Homo sapiens: one gene and its partner. The protein of the gene in region 2 purifies or fractionates together with the protein of the main gene of each other region. This does not show direct contact. Each region holds a gene or a part of one and is shown on either strand. Other genes may lie near its edges.

Evidence for each region. Proteins that work in one complex are often made in the same cells at the same time.
Region 1: the proteins of CEP72 (region 2) and ZKSCAN1 purify together in Homo sapiens (affinity purification with mass spectrometry; 2 studies listed by BioGRID and IntAct, with this or other methods). This does not show direct contact.

Annotation. Positions count from the first base shown.
Region 1 is NC_000007.14:100,025,530-100,029,178, forward strand, and holds part of ZKSCAN1 (zinc finger protein with KRAB and SCAN domains 1), read left to right. Parts: intron 1-3,649. UniProt on the Homo sapiens protein: May be involved in transcriptional regulation.
Region 2 is NC_000005.10:629,336-632,984, forward strand, and holds part of CEP72 (centrosomal protein of 72 kDa), read left to right. Parts: intron 1-3,649. UniProt on the Homo sapiens protein: Involved in the recruitment of key centrosomal proteins to the centrosome.

The DNA.
Region 1 (3,649 bases), on a different chromosome or scaffold from region 2:
TGTGCTTAGAATGTAAAGACAAGGAATGCTAAAAGTACATTTATCACTTAATGGCAGGGATAAGTTATGGTAAGTGCAATGTTAAGTGATTTTGTTGTGCGAACATCATAAAGTATACTTATACAAACCTAGATGGTCTAGCCTTCTCCACACCTACGCTACAAAGCTGTACAGTATGTTACTGTACTAAACACTGTAGGGAATTGTAACACAGTGGTAAGTATTTGTGTATCTAAACATCGAAAAAGTAAAAACAGAGTATAAAAGATTTTTAGCCCAGGCACAGTGGCTCACGCCTGTAATCCCAGCACTTTGGGAGGCCAAGGTGGGTGGATCACTTGAGGTTAGGAGTTTGTGACCAGCCTGGCCAACATGTTAAAACCCGGTCTCTACTGAAAATACAAAAATTGGCTGAGCGCAGTGGCTCACACCTATAATCCCAGCACTTTAGGAGGCCAAGGCAGGCAGATCACCTGAGGTCAGGAGTTCGAGATCAGCCTGACCAACGTGGAGAAACCCCGTCTTTACTAAAAATACAAAATTAGCCAGGCCTGGTGGCAGGTGCCTATAATCCCAGCTACTCAGGAGGCTGAGGCAGGAGAATTGCTTGAACTCAGGCAGCAGAGGTTGCGGTGAGCCAAAATCGCACCATTGTCATGCCATCGCACTCCAGCCTGAGCAACAAGAGTGAAACTCATCTCAAAAAAAAAAAAAAAAAAAAAAAAAGTACACCTGTATGGAACACTTAACCATGACTGGAGCTTGCAGGACCGGAAGTTGCTCTGGATGAGTCAGTGAGTGAGTGGTGAGTGAATGTGAAAGCCTAGGACACTACTCTACCATAGACTGTAGAAACACTGTACACTTAGGCTACACTAAATTTATCTTTAAAATTTTTGTTTCTTCAATAATAAATCAGCCAGGCATGGTGGCTCATGGCTTAATCCCAGCACTTCGGGAGTCCAAGGTGGGCGGATTACTTGAGGCCAGGAGTCTCAGACTGGTTTGGCCAACATAGTGAAACACTGTCTCTACAAAATAAAAAAATTAGCCAGGCGTGGTGGTGCATGCCTGTAATTCCAGTTACTCAGGAGGCTGAGGCACAAGAATTGCTTGAACCTGTAGGCAGAGGTTGTGGTGAGCCAAGATTGCACCACTGCACTCCAGCCTGGGTGACAGAGTGAGACTCTGTCTCAGAAAAAAAAAATAAATAAATAAATACAAATAATAAATTAGCTTACTGTAACTTTTTTACTTTATGAACTTTTTGATTTTTTTAACTTTTTGACTGTTGTAATAACATAACTCAAAAGACAAACATGTTGCACAGCTATACAAAAACATTTTTTATCCCCCTATTCTATAGGGGTTTTTCTAGTTAAAAAAATTTTTATTTTATACTTTTTAAGCTTTTTTTGTTAAAAATTCATACACCCTCCAAGCTAGGCAACAGAGCAAAACTCCATCTCAAAAAAGAAAAAAAAAGGCCAGGCGCAGTGGCCCACGCCTCTAATCCTGGCACTTTGGGAGGCGAAGGTGGGCAAATCACTTGAGGTCAGGAGTTCAAGACCAGCCTGGCCAACATGGCGAAACGCCGTCTGTACTAAAAATACAAAAATTAGTTGGTTGTGGTGGTGTACACCTGTAATCGCAGCTACTCAGGAGGCTGAGACACAAGAACGCTTGAACCCGGGAGGTGGAGGTTGCAGCAAACCAAGATGGCTCCTCTGCACTCCAGCCTGGGCGACAGAGCAACACTCATCTCAAAAAAAAAAAAAAAAGAATTGGTCGAGGCACATTCCTTAACCAGTGTGTTTATTGGTGATGACATTTAAGGAATATTAGACATGGAGCTTAAGGATGCATCCTCTCTTCCGTGCATCCTGGAGGACAGCCAGCAGGTATGTGCTAGAGAAAGCTGTGTAAACTGGTGCACCGTGGCCAGGCGTGGTGGCTCACGCCTGTAATTCCAGCACTTTGGGAAGCCGAGGCAGGAGGATCACAAGGTCAGGAGATTGAGACCATCCTGGCTAACGGTGAAACCCCGTCTCTCCTAAAAATACAAAAAATTAGCCAGGCATGGTGGCGGGTGCCTGTAGTCCCAGCTACTCAGGAGGCTGAGGCAGGAGAATGGCGTGAACCCGGGAGGCGGAGCTTGCAGTGAGCCGAGATTGCGCCACTGCACTCCAGCCTGGGCAACAGAGGGAGATGCTGTCTCAAAAAAAAAAAAAAAAAACACCGGTGCACCGTGATGTTTAACTCCACTACTGTTGATGTTCTTGTAAGGTTTCTCCACACTCTACAAGCAGAAGTCACAGGGCGACCTTAGGAAACTGGAGAGGATATTCATGGTCTTAAGCACTAGATTATAGAGTTTAGGTTGCCAGAGTAACAGTTTCAAAGATCCTGGCACACACAGTTGCTCTTTAGTAAATAGTTCTTAAATAAATTGAGACATGTACATTTATTCTCAATTTCCTCTTTCTTATTTGTTTTCCAGAGTGTTTCCTTACTCTCAGAAGTTTAAAAAATTAAGTACTTGGGGCTGGGCGCAGTGACTCACGCCTGTAATCCCAGCACTTTGGGAGGCTGAGGTGGCCAGATCATAAGGTCAAGAGATCGAGATCATCCTGGCCAACATGGTGAAACCCCGTCTCTACTAAAAATACAAAAACTAGCTGAGCGTGGTGGCAGGCACCTGTAGTCCCAGCTATTTGGGAGGCTGAGGCAGCAGAATCACTTGAACCCAGGAGGGGAGGTTGCAGTGAGCCGAGATCGCGCCATGCACACCAGCCTGGGTGATAGAGCGAGACTCCATCTCCAAAAAAAAAAAAAGTACTTGGGTACAGTGGCTCACACCTGTAATCCTAGCATTTGGGGAGACCAAGGTGGGAGGATCACTTGAGCCTGGGAGGTCAAGGCTGCAGTGAGACATGTTTGAGCACTGCATTCCAACCTGGGTGACAGAGAGCCTATCTTATTGTTGTATAAAGGTTTGAAATAGGTACAAGGTTTGGTCATTCAGTTTCAAATTCATTTCTCAAATATCCTTGTATCTCACTAACATCATCTGTCTACCAGTAACATTTCCAAATCTAATAGTACTTGGCAAGAGATGGGGAGGGGGTTAAATTGCACAATTTAAAATTTTCATAATTGTTATGCATCACAGTTATTGTGATCACGTGATAATGTTATGCATGTCTTTTGTTGTGTGTCAGCCCCAACTTTTGTCTCAGCATTTGAACCATGCATACATCTTATCAAAAAAAAAAAAAAAAAACAGTATTTATTGTGGCCAAGTGAGGGAGAAAAGTAGAGGGACAAAAACTGGCAAAAACTTAGCCAGAGGTGGCCGGACACAGTGGCTAACACTTGTAATCCCAGAGCTTTGGGAGGCCGAGGCGGGCAGATCACCTGAGGTCAGGAGTTCGAGACCAGCCTGACCAACATGGAGAAACCCCGCCTCTACTAAAAATACAAAATTAGCTGGGCGTGGTGGCTCATGCCTGTAATCCCAGCTACTCTGGAGGCTGAGGCAGGAGAATCACTTGAACCCGGGAGCCGAAAGTTGCGATGAGCTAAGATCGCACCATTGCACTCCAGCCTGGGCAACAAGAGCAAAACTCTGTCTCAAAAAAAAAAAAAA
Region 2 (3,649 bases):
AGTGTAATCACATAGCAGAACAGAATCTTCCAGAACTTTAATTTTTGAACCAATCCTAGTGGGGTTCTGTCCAGTGCCGGGATTTGGACCAGTCCTGGTGGGATTCTGTCCAGTGCCGGGATTTGACCCAGTCCTGGTGGGGTTCTGTCCAGTGCCGGGATTTGGACCAGTCCTGGTGGGGTTCTGTCCAGTGCCGGGATTTGGACCAGTCCTGGTGGGGTTCTGTCCAGTGCCGGGATTTGGCCCAGTCCTGGTGGGGTTCTGTCCAGTGCCGGGATTTGGCCCAGTCCTGGTGGGGTTCTGTCCAGTGCCGGGATTTGACCCAGTCCTGGTGGGGTTCTGTCCAGTGCCGGGATTTGGCCCAGTCCTGGTGGGGTTCTGTCCAGTGCCGGGATTTGACTCAGTCCTGGTGGGGTTCTGTCCAGTGCCGGGATTTGGCCCAGTCCTGGTGGGGTTCTGTCCAGTGCCGGGATTTGGCCCAGTCCTGGTGGGGTTCTGTCCAGCGCCGGGATTTGGCCCAGTCCTGGTGGGGTTCTGTCCAGCGCCGGGATTTGGCCCAGTCCTGGTGGGGTTCTGTCCAGTGTCGGGATTTGACCCAGTCCTGGTGGGGTGCTGTCCAGTGCCGGGATTTAGACCAGTCCTGGTGGGGTTCTGTCCAGTGCTGGGATTTGACCCAGTCCTGGTGGGGTTCTGTCCAGTGTCGGGATTTGACCCAGTCCTGGTGGGGTGCTGTCCAGTGCCGGGATTTAGACCAGTCCTGGTGGGGTTCTGTCCAGTGCTGGGATTTGACCCAGTCCTGGTGGGGTTCTGTCCAGTGCCGGGATTTGGCCCAGTCCTGGTGGGGTTCTGTCCAGCGCCGGGATTTGGCCCAGTCCTGGTGGGGTTCTGTCCAGCGCCGGGATTTGGCCCAGTCCTGGTGGGGTTCTGTCCAGCGCCGGGATTTGGCCCAGTCCTGGTGGGGTTCTGTCCAGTGCCGGGATTTGACCCAGTCCTGGTGGGGTTCTGTCCAGTGCCGGGATTTGGCCCAGTCCTGGTGGGGTTCTGTCCAGTGCCGGGATTTGACCCAAGTCCTGGTGGGGTTCTGTCCAGTGCCGGGATTTGACCCAGTCCTGGTGGGGTTCTGTCCAGTGCCGGGATTTGGCCCAGTCCTGGTGGGGTTCTGTCCAGTGCCGGGATTTGACCCAGTCCTGGTGGGGTTCTGTCCAGTGCCGGGATTTGGCCCAGTCCTGGTGGGGTTCTGTCCAGCGCCGGGATTTGGCCCAGTCCTGGTGGGGTTCTGTCCAGCGCCGGGATTTGGCCCAGTCCTGGTGGGGTTCTGTCCAGTGCCGGGATTTGACCCAGTCCTGGTGGGGTTCTGTCCAGTGCCGGGATTTGGCCCAGTCCTGGTGGGGTTCTGTCCAGTGCCGGGATTTAGACCAGTCCTGGTGGGGTTCTGTCCAGTGCCGGGATTTGACCCAGTCCTGGTGGGGTTCTATCCAGTGCCGGGATTTGGCCCAGTCCTGGTGGGGTTCTGTCCAGTGCCGGGATTTGACCCAGTCCTGGTGGGGTTCTGTCCAGTGCCGGGATTTAGACCAGTCCTGGTGGGGTTCTGTCCAGTGCCGGGATTTGGCCCAGTCCTGGTGGGGTTCTGTCCAGTGCCGGGATTTGACCCAGTCCTGGTGGGGTTCTGTCCAGTGCTGGATTTGACCCAGTCCTGGTGGGGTTCTGTCCAGCGCCGGGATTTGGCCCAGTCCTGGTGGGGTTCTGTCCAGCGCCGGGATTTGGCCCAGTCCTGGTGGGGTTCTGTCCAGCGCCGGGATTTGGCCCAGTCCTGGTGGGGTTCTGTCCAGTGCCGGGATTTGACCCAGTCCTGGTGGGGTTCTGTCCAGTGCCGGGATTTGGCCCAGTCCTGGTGGGGTTCTGTCCAGTGCCGGGATTTAGACCAGTCCTGGTGGGGTTCTGTCCAGTGCCGGGATTTGACCCAGTCCTGGTGGGGTTCTGTCCAGTGCCGGGATTTGGCCCAGTCCTGGTGGGGTTCTATCCAGTGCCGGGATTTGACCCAGTCCTGGTGGGGTTCTGTCCAGCGCCGGGATTTGGCCCAGTCCTGGTGGGGTTCTGTCCAGCGCCGGGATTTGGACCAGTCCTGGTGGGGTTCTGTCCAGCGCCGGGATTTGGACCAGTCCTGGTGGGGTTCTGTCCAGCGCCGGGATTTGGACCAGTCCTGGTGGGGTTCTGTCCAGTGCCGGGATTTGGACCAGTTCTGGTGGGGTTCTGTCCAGTGCCGGGATTTGGACCAGTCCTGGTGGGGTTCTGTCCAGTGCCGGGATTTGGCCCAGTCCTGGTGGGGTTCTGTCCAGTGCCGGGATTTAGACCAGTCCTGGTGGGGTTCTGTCCAGTGCTGGATTTGACCCAGTCCTGGTGGGGTGCTGTCCAGTGCCGGGATTTAGACCAGTCCTGGTGGGGTTCTGTCCAGTGCCGGGATTTGGCCCAGTCCTGGTGGGGTTCTGTCCAGTGCCGGGATTTAGACCAGTCCTGGTGGGGTTCTGTCCAGTGCTGGATTTGACCCAGTCCTGGTGGGGTTCTGTCCAGTGCCGGGATTTGGCCCAGTCCTGGTGGGGTTCTGTCCAGCGCCGGGATTTGGCCCAGTCCTGGTGGGGTTCTGTCCAGCGCCGGGATTTGGCCCAGTCCTGGTGGGGTTCTGTCCAGTGCTGGGATTTGACCCAGTCCTAGTGGGGTTCTGTCCAGTGCCGGGATTTGGCCCAGTCCTGGTGGGGTTCTGTCCAGTGCCGGGATTTAGACCAGTCCTGGTGGGGTTCTGTCCAGCGCCGGGATTTGGCCCAGTCCTGGTGGGGTTCTGTCCAGCGCCGGGATTTGGACCAGTCCTGGTGGGGTTCTGTCCAGTGTCGGGATTTGACCCAGTCCTGGTGGGGTGCTGTCCAGTGCCGGGATTTAGACCAGTCCTGGTGGGGTTCTGTCCAGTGCTGGGATTTGACCCAGTCCTGGTGGGGTTCTGTCCAGTGTCGGGATTTGACCCAGTCCTGGTGGGGTGCTGTCCAGTGCCGGGATTTAGACCAGTCCTGGTGGGGTTCTGTCCAGTGCTGGGATTTGACCCAGTCCTGGTGGGGTTCTGTCCAGTGCCGGGATTTGGCCCAGTCCTGGTGGGGTTCTGTCCAGCGCCGGGATTTGGCCCAGTCCTGGTGGGGTTCTGTCCAGCGCCGGGATTTGGCCCAGTCCTGGTGGGGTTCTGTCCAGTGCCGGGATTTGACCCAGTCCTGGTGGGGTTCTGTCCAGTGCCGGGATTTGGCCCAGTCCTGGTGGGGTTCTGTCCAGTGCCGGGATTTAGACCAGTCCTGGTGGGGTTCTGTCCAGTGCCGGGATTTGACCCAGTCCTGGTGGGGTTCTATCCAGTGCCGGGATTTGGCCCAGTCCTGGTGGGGTTCTATCCAGTGCCGGGATTTGACCCAGTCCTGGTGGGGTTCTGTCCAGCGCCGGGATTTGGCCCAGTCCTGGTGGGGTTCTGTCCAGCGCCGGGATTTGGACCAGTCCTGGTGGGGTTCTGTCCAGTGCCGGGATTTGGACCAGTTCTGGTGGGGTTCTGTCCAGTGCCGGGATTTGGACCAGTTCTGGTGGGGTTCTGTCCAGTGCCGGGATTTAGACCAGTCCTGGTGGG